Homo sapiens: one gene and its partner. The protein of the gene in region 1 purifies or fractionates together with the protein of each later gene. This does not show direct contact. Each region holds a gene or a part of one and is shown on either strand. Other genes may lie near its edges. The genes, in order: KAZN and ARHGAP5.

Region 1 (7,276 bases):
TTTTTTTTTTTTGATGGGGGCGGGAGTTGTTTTTGTTTGTTTTTGTTTTTTTCATAGCCTGTGGCAGCATCCTGCTAGCACAGAAACCCTCTGCAGAGGTGGTCTGGTAGTTTCTTTTGCCATTGCTTTCATTATCCTAAAAAGAAGCCTTGAGTTCTCACACAAGTTAATTTTAAAGTGCAATTGATTGGGTTCCACTTGATTCTTCGTAATACACCTCCAGGGAGGCTCCCAGAGGCTCAGCTCCTCAGGGTTTCTGACTGTTCTTCCAAATTAGTCTTGTGTTTTCATTTTGTCTGTGTTGGTGCAGTTCAATGGGCCCAGACCCTAAGAGTGTTTAAGTGCTATTGAGTTATCAGTTTTCAAATCAAGGTTTTGAATAAAACGAGTATCTTTGCATTTCAAAATGCAACCGTGTAAGTCATCTTTTAACGAAAGGGCATTATGCACATATTAAATGCATGCTAATGTAACTTTAACAATATTAGTACAAATGGTTTTGGGAAAGAGTCACCTTTTGCTTCCTCTGCCAAGAGACTGTTAGATTCATTTTCAAATGTTTTTGTTTTTGTTTTTTAAATTCTTTTTTTAAATGAATGAAGCAAACTCATCAATCCATCATTGGCTGTTTTGTTCCAGGGATGACAACGGGCAGTAGGTAGGTTGGTATCCCCTTTTGATGAAGAAAATTTGGGTTTTCCTAGCGGGTTAATGCAGTGTGTCATTTAAACAAAATATTAACTTGGTTGGTACTCCCTGTGAGCTGGCATGGTTGCTATGTAACAGAATCTAGAAAGTGAACTGCTGAAAATCTGGGCTTTCGGCACTTCGGAGGATATTCTTTCGGAATCTGTGTTGAAAGAATTCCTGGCAGCCAGCCCATCTTGTCTCTCCCTCCTGCAACTGAGTTGGATAATCCTTAATGAGAATGCTGGCGTACAGTGCAGAGGGCGTCCGTGCAGGGTGACACATTTCAGAGCTCCAGAGGCTGCCTTTTGGGTCGGTGGGGTCACGGCAGCCTTTGACAGGTGGACAGAAGGAGGCTTGGAAAGAACAGAGCCAAGCATTTGTTCCAATTCATCTTGTTGTTGGTAGCCAGAGAAGGGATTTGTTTAAAGTAACATTTCTAAGCTGTTTTCCTCAGCATAACATCTCTGGGAAAATGTGTTTAAAATGCTTGCTGTTCTTTGAGGGGAAAATGTAGCAGTTTGTTTCTCTGAAAAAGTTTTATCAGCTGATGAATGACTAATATTAGATTCAGTTGGTTGCTTTGCTATGCATAGAACAAAACAATTAAGTGCTATGGTACCCAATTCAAATAGGTGTTAACTGTATATAACAAAATACTTAATGCCCAGTAGGATGTATGCCTACTGTCATTAGTTTTCTTTGTTAAAGAAATAATTGTATTTGTATTCCTATGCAAGTGGACGTGCTGATAGCATCTTTCTTTGGTGTGGAGGACTTCCTGCCTACTGCATTTGTTAGAAGGGGATGGAGGCAAGGGTCGGTTTCCTGTACCTTTGTACATTTCCATAAATGCGTGCAAGTTGTATTTTTCTCTCCAGGCATTAAAATAGGCTGTTACTTAAGGCCTGACAGCTCTCATCTACCATTACTACAACACTGGAAACTCTTTCGTGAAGTATAAATTACCTTTGGAGTGAATTGAATGTGTGAGTAGTCTGTGGAGACGCTAGACACTGTCGCTTTGCAAAGTAAGTTCTGTCTTTTGGCATCCCCTTCTCAATTCATTCTGCCTCTGCTCTTGTTTTCCTAAGTAGACTTTTATCTTTTTTGAGAAAGAGAATTTTCAAATGGCAGAGAGGATGGAACAAAATGTTGGGGAATCTCGGGCCTTCTGTTAGCTTGCCACTAAGTTACAGAGCTCAGCAAGTAGCCTGCGCCATGGTTTTCCAGCCAGATCAAGGGGTTAAAATAGAGTGTGTCTTTTCCTAACCTGTCATGGGATGGGGATTCAGTCTTCTCCCTGAAAATTGTCATGTGTGGTCACAAAGAGATTACTTACAGATCAGTACAGTGTGGTTGAAATTACTTATTGATTGGGGATTATTTACTATCTTTCCATTGTCTTTGGAAAATGCCTTCAAAGGACCTCTTAAGTCAAGTCTCTGATTCTGGTTAATTTCATGCTTCCATTGTGCACTTCATGATTTTTAGTGGTTTTCCAACACCTCTTTGATGCACCCCAGAAGTCTGAGCTGACCTGACTCATCTAACAGGAGCCTGGTCACATATCTTTCCAGGGTAAGGCATGATAGGCCCTCTCTCCATCCCTTTACCCTCTTACTCCTCAAGAAGACTGTTGGCACTTTTTAGGAATCCTATAGGGTTATAATGTGTGACTTCCTGGCTGCCAGTGTGTTTGTAGCAGATGGGCTTGGCAGGTGGCAAGAGCTCATTGGAACTTTGCCTGCTCACCGTGCATATCATATGGGGCCCAGAAGGTCAAGCTTGGGATTTGGCCACATTCACTGCATGTTTTCTTTATGTATTATAAATCTATATATTCATTCCTGGGCTATGTAGGTAAGGACAGTGAAATCAACACGAACTCCTCTGTTCTTTCCATACCTTAATGGTTTGCCTGAACATTGGTCCCTGGCTTCTTACCCCCTGCCATATATCAGGGGGTTCTGCCTGCTGAGCCCAGAGAATGGGTTTTTAAGTGATGTTGCACGTGGAAATAGGTCTCAGTGTTTGGGCTGCATATTAGGGTGAGTAGCACAAAATATGGCAGGAGTGTCACCGCCAGCAGTCATTGCACTGCCTTGGTGCCTTGAATTGCAGGCATAGTGGGTTCAGAAAGAATGATTTAGGAAAAGACATCTTTCCCGAAGCCAACAGGGTGGCCATCCACAGGGGCAGATCATACCTGACGATTCATAGCAGCTAAGAGTTCTGCTGACCCCTGTCACCACTCTCCAGTTCCCCTGCCACCACCCTCCAAATCCCCTGCCAGGCCCATCTCAGTTGTGGAGAAGCTGGAAGAAGATCAGGGAAAGGAACGCCTTCTTCCTCCCCGTGTGGTTGCACGACACCAGAACATTCTTGCTTGTTTGATGCAACCTTGATCCAAGTGGTGGAGGCGAGGTTGTGCTCTGTGGGCACTCCTGCTACCCCCTTGGAGTCCTAGGCTGCTGGAAACATGAAAGAAGCTGAACATAGTTTTAATGAGTTTGGCAAGAACAACTGTTTGAGCAGGTGGCTGCTGTGTGGTACAAGATCATTGGGGCTAAATTTATTCTGCGGGCTTTGTTGGCTGGGTCATGTCAGACCCTTGGGTCAGGCTTCTGAAAGGTCCCTGCCCCTTTACTTTCTGATGAATTGAGACCTCAGCACAGGAGCTCAGATGGAGCTTGGAACAGGCAGTCCTGCAAGCAAAGAGCCCCAGGGCCTCTGCCCACTTCTCCAGTCAGGCTGGAGAGGGGAGAGAAGTTGGGGAGAGGAGGTGTCCTGCCCAGCTCCCTTCTCCTCTGTCCTCTTCCACCACAGCAAGCGCTATGTTACCTTTGTGGGGATGTAAAGGCCTTCCATTCCCAATATTACCTCTGCTCTACAGATTGTGTGAAGTAATGAGTCATTAAGAACAGAGCGCCCCTTTTAAAGAAGCTGATATTCTCCACTCATCTTTGCATACCTCACTATTATTATTCTCAGAACTTACCTTTTGGGCATGCCACAAGACGCTGGGGATTCTGGGACCATCTTGAAGCCTGTAGTTTCTTTCTCTTTGGTCAAGGTGAATAGTTTAATGTAGCAGTAAATGAGAACTGGTTTCATTGCTTTGGTCAAACTTTTTAATAAATAATAATATGCACTTACAATATATCAACTTCCCTGGCAAGCGCTTAACATGCATTATTGAATCCTGAGGCCAGCGAGGTGACAACTATAGCTGGCCCCCACCCAGCACAGTAAAAAATCTGTCTATAACTTTTGACTCCCCCAACACTTAACTCCTACTAGCCTACTATTGACCGGAAGCCTTATGATAACGTAAACATAGCATAATATAAACAGTTAACAGATAACATAAGCAGTTGACTTATACATACTTTTATGCCCCATGTATTATGTATTTTATAATTAAGTAGAGAAATCAAGTAAGCTAGAGAAAACAAAATATTAAGAAAATCATAAGGAAGAGAAAATATATTTGCTATTCATTAAGTGGAAGTGGATCATCATAAAGGCCTTCATCCCCATCATCTTCATGTTGAGGAGGAGGAGGAAGAGGAAGGGTTGGTCTCGCTGTCTCAGGGGTGCCAGAGGTGGAAGAAAATTCACATATAAGTGGACCTGCACAATTCAAACCTATGTTCTTCCAGGTCAACTATGTAATGCCCGTTTTTCAAAAGAGGAAACTGAGTCTCAGAGAAACTAAATCACTTGTTTGCAGTGAGATAGTGATGACTACAATGGGGATGATAGTAGCAGACTTCAGCATAGTGTGTACTCTGAGCCAGATACTGTTCTAAGTGATTTTCTGGATTAATGCATTTCAGGAATGCATTCAGTCTTCATAATGACTTATTGGGCAGGTACCATGCTCGTACCCATTTTCCATAGGAGAAAACTAAGGCACAGAGATGACACATTTACTTGCCAAAGGGCATATGGTCAGGAAGTGACCAAGCTCTGGCTCTAGAGTCTGTGTTCTTATTCATTCCACTTTGACATCCAGGATCACTCAACTGCCACATGACTGAGCCAGGAATGCAAACCCACTAGGTCTCTCTGCTGTTTAAACCTGTGTATGCTTCTCTGCCCTGCCTCCTAAGTCAGAAGCATCCTTTGGCTTGTTGCATTAGGGAGGTTCAGGGAGCTGTAGCCTTGTCTCTACTCCTGATTAAACTCCTGTTTCCCTAGACTGGTGGTAGTTCCTGGGTCCTTACGGTAAAGTCTTATGCTTGAGAGTTAGGCAATCAACCAGCCTCTCAGCCATCAACTGACAAAGAAGGGACTGGATTCTGTTTGCAAGACTGGCAGCCCAGGGGCCACTTATCACTAATAAAAAGGACTATTTTGATCCTGGACTTGGAGCCTCCAATTTCTTGGACTTCGTGTGTTTCATCTCTCTTGGGAAGGATGAGTCCAGGCAAAGCCAGAGTCTTGTGGCAGCCTTATTCTCCATCCATCCCATGTCTTTTCTTTTGCCTGAGTTCTCTCTCTGTGGCCTCAGTAGCCTCTAGCACCCCAAGACCATGCCCAACAGAGGACTTATTAACCTCAAACAGATACCTTCATGCTAGGGTTTCTTAGCCCCAGTACTATTGACATGTGGAGCAGATAATTCTGTGTTCTCAGGGGGCTGTCCTGTGTGTTGTAGGATATTTAGCAGCATTCCTGGCCTCTACCCACTAGATGACAGTAGAACCCTTCACACTCCAGTTGTGACAACTAAAAATGTCTCCAGAAGTTGCCAAATGTCCCCTTCAGGTCAAAATTATCCCTGGTTGCGAACTGCTTTTTATGCAGTGGTGTTAGGGGAGACTTCAATTGTTAGTCTTGGAATGACAGCTCTGTGAGGTCAGGGAGTTTTATCTATATTTTACTGTATCCTCACCACCTAGAGCAGTGCTTTGTACATAATGTAAGAGCTCAGTAAATACTTGCTGAATGAATAGATGGATGGATGGGTGAATACTAAATGATGGGGTGTGTGGACTTTGGTCTACTTTATACATGGTATCATGAGGATCATTGATTTAATGATAGATGATTTTAATTGAGTGCTTACATACCATATAACAAGCACTGTTTCAAATTCTTTACCTATAATACCTCAACGAATCCTTTAAACCACCTTATGAGGTAAGTACAGTGTTTGTCATTTTACAGATGAGAAAGTTGAGGCACACAAAGGTCACATGACTTGCCCAGGGTCACCGAGCTAGCAAGTGGCAGAGCCAGGATACAAACACAAGCCAGTGTGATTCCAGAGACTGCCTGGCGTCTCCACCAGGATGCTCTGGAGCTTGGCATCCTTTTTCCCATTACTGCCCAAGAAACTGTTATTGTTCTAATGTTGGCATTGTGGCAATTATAATTAGGATTTGCATGTCAGACACTAACTCATTCATCGTCAATCCTCAGAGTTCTGCTGGACAAAATATGCTCTGTCACTTCTGAAGAATCCGTAGCCAGCAGGGACTCCTGTCTGGCCAGAGGTAAGAGGACTGCTTAGTGCTGAGCCATGTTCAAACGTGAGAATCTCTTCTCTCTGCCTCACTGCTGGGCTGTGACCAAAGAGAATCGCAGAGGGGACTTGACTTTCCTACCTTTATGGGAAAGGGAACAGTGGACCCCAGAGCTTCTTAGTGGGGTTATGGCTCATTTTTAGCAAAAGGGATGTTCCAGGATCAGAACTGGGGAGGCAGAGTGACTTTTGAGATCATCCAAGGGGGCAATAAGAGCAATAGCCAGTGTTCGTTGAGGCTTTCCCAGATACTGTGATGAGCTCAACAAACATTTCCTCAATTTACCTTCATATTACAGAGAGTTAGATATTGTTATCCTCTCCATTCCACAGATGAAGACATTGAAGCTTAGAAGGGTTAAGTTGCTTTTCCAAGCTCTGGAAAGTAGTCCACTAGTGAACAGAAAAACAGGGGATTAGAACACAGGTTCACACGTTTGACTGACCCTGAAATCTGCTCGCTTCGTTAAGACGAGAATATCCAGATGTCACTATCAGGTAGCCCAAAGACATGCCAGTAGGACGGTTTTGCTATTTTGCTTAACGCCTTCCCTTCCTCTTTTTTTCTTCCTTTCTTCTTCCTCGCTTCTCTCTGTCTCCATCTATTGTGAGAGATTGGGCACATAGGCCCAGAGACCACAGATTTAATAAGATGGGGACTGAGTTATCTTGGACTCACAGCCTCATAGGTATAACTGACATGAAAACATAATTTTCTAATAAAGGTCTAGATGGGTGTAATGGAAAAATAGACAATGAAGTGACAAATACAGGAGCCTTCACAGATGTGCATGACAATGGTAATACGTAATAAAAACAGGCTGGAAAATACACTAATTTCACCACTAGGGGTTAAAACTGGCTGTGATAGATTATTAAAAAGTACAACTGTTTGGATAGATTGGAATTGGACACTGCAGAGAACAGCTACTACCTGGGACCTTCTCCCCCAGAGAAAGAGCGCGTCTTAAGGAGAAGGAAGATGTGGATGATACTGGGTTTAGATCTTGAATAATAGCTTTTCTGTCCTCTTTTCAAAGAGAGTTAAAAAAA
Region 2 (7,553 bases), on another chromosome or scaffold:
AAAACTCAATAGAGAGTCCAGATGGCCCAACAATACCTCCTTTTGTGAGAGGAAATAACTTGAAGATTTTGTCTAATTAAAGTATTTGTGCTGGTGGGATCTGAATGAATTGTTTTTCCTTTAAAAGGAGTCTGCATTACAAATAATCTTTACAAAATACGAATTATTTAAAAATAGTGTGCTGCTTTCAGTATTTCAGTTATGTCCTAGGACTAGAGTTTCATGAGCATGACATTTTAAAGCTAGACTCTGATACCATCTTTGGGATTTCAGTCTGAAAATACAGTTCTGGAATATCAACAGAACAAGGCTGTGTGGAACAAAATGCCAAGAAGGTCAATGCACTACTTTCCTCCTGTTCCAGTCCCATGCTCACAATTACCTTAACTCTTGTCAAAATATTTTCTACAGTAACAGCCAAGACATAATTAGCACCTTTTCTTCATGTTGAAAATATCATTGGTACCCATAAAACAAATTTGGGGAAAGCCCTTAAGCACCTTAATGCAGCAAATGGCTACTGTGGATTGATACACCATTATTTGCCTAGCTGAAGGATTAATATCCCATCTTATCCTGCCTTCTTCCTCCCCTCAAGTAGGCCTAATTGTATGAGATAGAGAGAAAAAGAGAAGTCTAGGCAGGAGATGGGGATAAGGTAAAGAGTGGAAATACAGTTGGAAATTAAGCAAATATCTTACAAGTGTTTTGGCTATTTAGCTATTTACATCATTATTCTCCATCCTCTTTGTGTATTTTGTCTGTAATCAAGGTGATATTCTGACATAGGTTGTTCTCCAAAAGCCTGTCTTGTATCAGACAGGCTAAAGTATTGGTCAATTCTGTCATGAGTGGTAAGGCCCTTTATTTGGCTTTTCATATGTTCCTGATTGAGACTACAGAAGCCAAAGTTGTTATGATCAAAGATTTCCAGCAGGGGGTGTAGCTGCCTCTATAGGGTAAGTTCTTTTGAAGCCACAACATATGAAACATTTGAATATTGCAGTATTACCACTAATGGTAGAAGCTGGAATTATGATAACTTTTTTTATGACTGTCATGTCTTTTGATCTCAAAAAGACCATGCATATTAATACTTTATTAGGATGTGATGAAGAACTAGAGATTTATGAAGAAAATTTAAATTAAAAACCGAAAATGCCTGACAAATCTTATTCTAATTTTTTCAAAGTAAACGAGGAACAAAGAGTCCAGTTATTTTAATTATCCAGTACAGCAGAAGAGAGGCTTAACTTTTTTATTCTAGATAAGAAGAGTAGTTGATTTGAGAGGGCTTGTTAATATTTATTCCATTTCCATTTCTGTCCGATATTTGTGCGCGCGCATGTGTGTGTGTGTAAATAAGTTACCTATTTTCTTAAAAATTATCCTTTTGAGTAGGGAGGGTGGGTGTTTTAAAGCTTTTTCTCTGAAGTCTTGGCTCCTGATCAATTTTTAAAGATGCCATCTTACATATTTTTCCTCCTGCTCTTTGATGCCTTTTATTTATGGATATATAGGCATTATTAGCCACAGAATTGTGGCCCCCATTTCAGATTTTTATTGATACAGAAAACTCTATTTTTTGAGAAGAGCAAATTACATACAATAACTTATTTGTACTGGTAAACACCTTTAGACTATTAGTATTAATAAGAAACGAAGTCCTAAATTTCCAGGCTCCCTAAATCAAGATAAAGAACTGAAAATAATGTCGACTATGAAAATCATTGTTTGGAAATCGTGATCTTTTTTTTTTTTTTAACGTCTTCTGGTGTCTTCATTATAAGAAAATAAATGAGATTTCAAGTCTTCCCTGCCTCCAGTATCATGTCCTATAACTGAACATTACACCTTTTTAACGTTTTCTTTAGAAGCCCTGATTTATTTGGCTTTGGTTTATGTTGATACATGTCCATGATTATTAAAATTTCTGATTATTTAGGACATAATTTTTAAGGTATCTTTAGGGTGTACACTCTATAGTACTTAACATCTTATTCAGGTTATGACTTTGAACTGCATCATTATAACACTAAAAAGCAACCTTGGCTAACTTCAGTACCTTACGTAACATAAGAAATAAAGAATAACTTGAACTTAAAATACTTTTTATATGTTTACTTCGGGTATTCTTAAGGGCTTTCAGTACAAAGATAAAAACATGCGTTGGAATGCATCAACATTCCAACTTACATAAGTGGTGTAGATACCTATGGCATTAGTACCACATTTTGATGGTTGGACCACCCACCAAATTCCCTTCTCTCCTTTTTTACTTCTTTTTCTTTCTGTTTGCTTTCCTTGCAAGTTTCCTTCCGCATCCTTCTTTCCCACCTACAATTTGTAACTGAAAGAAAGAAGTAGCTACAGACCTTACCTAACCTACTCTTAACCTACTTGGTAGGTAGGGTTCAGATGCAAGGGAGTGGCTCGAATAAAGCATTTTAGTTATGCCTTTTAGAAATTAGGGAGCAAGAGATATATAGAAAAATTAGAAATGTCTCTTCTACCTTTATTAAGTCTACCTTTGAGAAATATGAAGGGCAGGAAGACGGAAAAACGAACAGAACTTCTGCTGGAATATTGTGACAAATTTACTGACAAATATTTTCTAATAGATTTTTACCAACAGGCAGTTTTTGTTTTCTTTACTGACAGACCGTAAATGTACTTCTGGTTGGCAGCAGCTGCATCATTATAACACAAAAGCAACCTTGGCTAACTTCAGTACCTTATGTAACATAAGAAATAAAGAATAACTTGAATTTAAAATACTTTTTATATGTTTACTAACATTAAACTATTTTCAATGCAGGAAATAAATATTTCCCCAAAGAGGAATCCCCCCTCAATTACTTTCTTTCAGACTTAACAAATTGGAGTAGATGTGGTTTTGCTCATTCTTTTATCTGCTGGCAACTATTTTAAGTCTCCTGTGCAAGGCAGATTCCGATGACCTCGGGAAAGTCACAGGACCTCAGTTTCTTCAATGGTAAAAGCAAAGGCAGTGGTTTCTACCGTCCTTTCTCACTGCACCATTCAGCGTCAGTGCCCTCATGAGAAACACACCCAAAGCCCAGTGTGCTCTACCCCAAAACTTGTGAAATTTCTAGAGTCTCAAAAAAGTGAATATGTTTAAGGCAGTATAATAAAAGCCAGGTGGACGACAGTTCCTAAAGTTAGGCTGGTAGTGGCGTGAACAGGGGTCTTTTGGGCCACCCTGAGACCCGCCCCACGGGGCTTCTCGATCCACGTCTTGGCTTCTCGCTCCACTTTCACAGAACGTACTGAATCAGGGGCCTGCATCCCCGTGCCGTGCCGAGCCGACGGAGAAATGGACTCCTCTTCTCGCTCCTGTGGAGTTTCGTCTTCTGGGTGAGTGTGGCACCGGGTCCTGGGCGGGTGATGTCTGTAGTTGGCGAGCGATCCTCAGCCAGAAAACTGGCTGCGCACACAGGCGCAGACACGCGAACATGTTCCTGCGAACGAGCTTGGGCGCATGTTTTCCTCCCTTGCTTTCTTTAATGCTCAGAGACCATAAGGGGATTTATCGAGAAGCATTCGGTGCCCATGCCCGGTTTGGAACCGCGAGCACAATATCTGGTTCCTTTGCAGTACGGTGGTTTGCTCTTGAGTTACGACCAGAAACCGGAACAGAAGGAAAGGGAGAAGCAGGGGAGGTTCGGGGACGACGGCGCTCCGGGCAGTAAGGCAGTAGCTTCCAAAGCGTGGAGGATGGGACTGAGGAGGAGCAGAATACGGAGAAAGAGGGAAGCTGAGGAAAAATACTCACGCCAATGGGTAAAAGGGAAAAGGTGAGAAGGAATGGAGTAGGGGAGGGAACCAATGGTGGGAGAGGCGGAGGAAGAAGGGGGAGGGGTAGAAGCCAATGGGGGAGTGGAGGGGAGGGAGAAGCAGAGGGGAGGAGGGAGCGGGGACGCGAGCGAGGACGCGGCCCCGCGCGCTCGTCCCCCTCCCTCCGACTGGATAGCTCGCGCCTTCCCAGGCTCCCGGGAGACGAGGGCAGGGGCGGGGCCGTGCCGGGTGCGCGGCGCGGGAGGCGTCGCGAGGTGAAGGGGCGGGGACGGGGGATTGTGGGGAGGGCAGCGCGGGTTCGCGCGCGCGCGCGCGTCCCGTCCAGGCTGCGCCGCCGCGCCGCCGCTCCGCCCCCGGTCGGGTGTGTGGCTGCGCGCGCCGGGAGAGATGCTGAGGTAAAGTTCGGGAGAGAGGGAGAGAAATCCGTCAGCGCGAGGGAGCCCGAGTGGCCGCCATTACTGAGCCCGGCGCGGCGGCGGGCGCTGGGGAAGGGGGGAGGGACGGGCCGCCGCTGGTGGCGGGGAGGGAGGGAGGGAGGGTGGGTGAGCTGGCTGCGGGAGCCGTGGGGCTCAGGGTTTCGGGGCGTGTGTGTCGGGGAGGGCGGGGGGAGGTGGCTGAAGGGACGCGCCGCTCGGTGAGCGCGCCGAGGAAGAGAGGCGAGCGGAGAGTGGAGGAGGAGGCGGCGGCGGCGGGAGCGGTCCCCAGGAATGTCGCTGCCGCCGCCACCGCCGGGGCCGCTGCCGTTGAGGAGGAGACGGAGGAGACCGACGTTGTTAGGTAGGACCTTGCGGACCCCGCTCCTCCAAGCCTGCCTGCCCCCTCCCGGACGGGGACCCTCCTGCGGCTAGCTGCCCCGCTCGGTCGCCGCTGCCGGTTGTAACCAGTTGAAGGGGCTGGGGCCCCGCGGCCGCCGAGGGGAGCCTGGCGCTGCGCTCGGTTTTCGCAGGCCGGGCGGGCAGCAGCTGCAGCGTTAGGGATACGTTCGGCGTGAAGGGCAGAGAGGCCGGGGGAGGGGGTGCTTTCTCCACAGGTGACGGGGCCAGGGTCGGCGGAGGCCTGATGCTGGCCGGGGATCGCCGGCCCCGCCAGGCGTCCGCTCTCGCCCGCCGCCTCACTTGCTCGAGTCTCGGGTGGTCCGTCGAGAGGGGAGGTGGCGGTGTCCGTTGGCCGGGTTGCTGCTGTTAACGAGTTCCACCTGGAAAGGGTACACGGGGCGGGTGCAGATTCGCGGAAACACAGTCTCGGTTGCAAACTTAAACGCCTTGTAGGGGGGATCGGCCCTTTCACTTTCCCTCATCTCCTCGACTCCTCCCTGGGTTCTCTTCACCAATTTTCCATCTGCTTTGAAGCTTGGAGTAAGATATGAGAAGTTGCACTGCGCATCCAGAGCCCAGAGTCCTATGGGCTGACTGCGACTGGGTTGAGGCTTTGATACTGAGTTTTCGCTAGAATAACCTCCAGATTCTTCCTCTCTTTCCACTAAAGAAAAGTATCGGGGTGGGGGTGGGGAGCCGCGCGGGAGCGCGCGCGCACTTATCCACACAGAAATACTCCCTCTCACCCTCCCTCTTCAGCGTTATTAGAAATGCAAGAGAGCTGGAGGCTCGGGGTGTAGCTGAGGTTGAAAGGTGCACGGAAGTAAGGGCAAACTGTTATTAGGCCGTTTAGTAAAATCCCGAAAAAGTTGTAGGGGAGACGCTTATACTTCTACCATGTGATAGAAATTCGGATTTGGCCATCGCTTAATAAATGGGAATTCAAATATTTTGAGATAGAGCAAGATAGGCATATAGATGGGTTTGTGCTTACGTTTTAAGTTTAAATTCTTATCGATCATTTATTTTTTCCTTTGTGATAGGCAGGAAACTGAATTTTTTTTTAAATGTTCAGGTGTAAAACAGCAAAATGCTTCGCTGTATTTACTAGTACTTGCTTATGTTGCTTTCTACAGGTAGGGGCGGGGGGCGAGTTTGTCAATTCCACTTAAATCCAGAACCAGTATTCAGTTAGAATGTTAGGTGGTGTTTATCCGCATGAAGGATCTCGTTCACTTCATGGGAGCTTGCTCTACATTTCCACTTAAAATGGTTCTCCTAACAAAAATTTCATCTAGATGCAGCGATTAGACATTTGGAATAATGTTTGGTTTAAAAATACGTTAATGAAACCTTTTGCTGTCAATTCTAGTTTATTTGTACTGTAATACGATAAAACGGTATTCTTATTCAGTGTTTGTAGATAAGTATTACTAACCGTCTAGGTAACCTACTAGATAGTTTCTTGAGTAAGATTTTGCTTTCATTTTAAATTCCTTTCTCATTTTTTGCTTTCATCTATCCTTTGTATACTAATTGACCTCCATTACCTTTATCTGTAGTACAAAGAGCGGTAAGTATGTGTCACCAAAAACTTGCAAAGACACTGGAGCAATTTATGACTAAACGCACTGGAGTGAAAGGCTGCGCATACCTATGCTTGTAACTTTCAAGAAATAGCACTATTGATCTAATTGACTTAAAGCAGAATCAGACGGTACAGATGATTAAATAACTATTGATTTGGTTGTCTTGTGTAGGCTGTGTTTTTAAACCTAGATCAACATGTCTTATTTTGCCATTCTTTGTACATTAATTATTAAGAGTACTGGGGAGTGAGGTGGGTTACACTTTGATGTAAGAATTGCGGCAGAATTCTGTTATCTTTATGAGTTTTGTAGTGTCCCTCCCCATTTAAACGACCTTAGCAATTTTTAAAATGTGTTGCAAAATTATTACCTTAATTCTGTCACAAGATACTTATCCTAAATGTTTTGAAAACCGTCTCCCCTTCTTATTTGTGTTTGAAAAGCATATTAGCACAGTCATTTTTTTGGAGAGTTATTTTGACCTTGAAAGTTAAGATTATTTAAGGAATGAATATTGTATTTGCATTCCTTTTTTGGATTTGAAGTAGCGATAATAAGTTTTCTAACTCACTTTTTTTAATTGAAGAAAAAGTTAGGTCTCATAAAGACTTTACTAAACTTTACCAACATTGGCAGGATGTAAGATGAGTGTTGGCCTTTAGTGGTCACTTCTTAAATATGAAATGGCATAATAGAGATTTTCTTGGTAGCTACAGAATAAGTTTTGTCGCAACTGTAGTTTCCATAGATACTATTTTAAGAACTATTTATTTGGGTTGTATGGTCCACAGTTTTTTCTTTGCATACCAAGAAGGTGTGTAGTAATATAATTGGCTGAAGAAGCATTGTACAGTGTTGTTTTAGTGATGTCTATGTTCCTAAAAGATACTTGTATTATATATTTAAAGTACACCAAGGGAATTTAATTTCTAAAAGACCTGTGAAGAAACATCAGTAGATTCATCATTCAGTAATTTGAGTAATCAGGCTCTTGTTTTAAGTGCAGGCTTTTGTCGATTATTTTATTGAAATAGGAAAAACCATATTAGAAATTAAGAAAAATGCTTCAATGCTAAGAATTTTAAGTATGAACTTTAATTGGTTTTCAAACTCTGTTCCTTGGATTCCTGTGGGTTTTTTTCCTAGATGCCTTGAGACTTCCTATGACAACCCACCCTCCCAAACCAGGACAGCTTCTATTTTCATGTATTAAGTGTATTGTATTTAAATATAAGAATATTTAACTTAATTAAATATAAGAAAAATATTTATTATTTAAATATAAGAAAAATAACTAATGGGTACTAGGCTTAATACCTGGGTAACAACA

Evidence for each region.
Region 2: the proteins of KAZN (region 1) and ARHGAP5 purify together in Homo sapiens (affinity purification with mass spectrometry; 2 studies listed by BioGRID and IntAct, with this or other methods). This does not show direct contact.

Annotation. Positions count from the first base shown.
Region 1 is NC_000001.11:14,601,437-14,608,712, forward strand, and holds part of KAZN (kazrin), read left to right. Parts: intron 1-7,276. UniProt on the Homo sapiens protein: Component of the cornified envelope of keratinocytes. May be involved in the interplay between adherens junctions and desmosomes. The function in the nucleus is not known.
Region 2 is NC_000014.9:32,072,840-32,080,392, forward strand, and holds the start of ARHGAP5 (rho GTPase-activating protein 5), read left to right. Parts: upstream 1-4,464; 5' UTR 4,465-4,596; intron 4,597-7,553. UniProt on the Homo sapiens protein: GTPase-activating protein for Rho family members.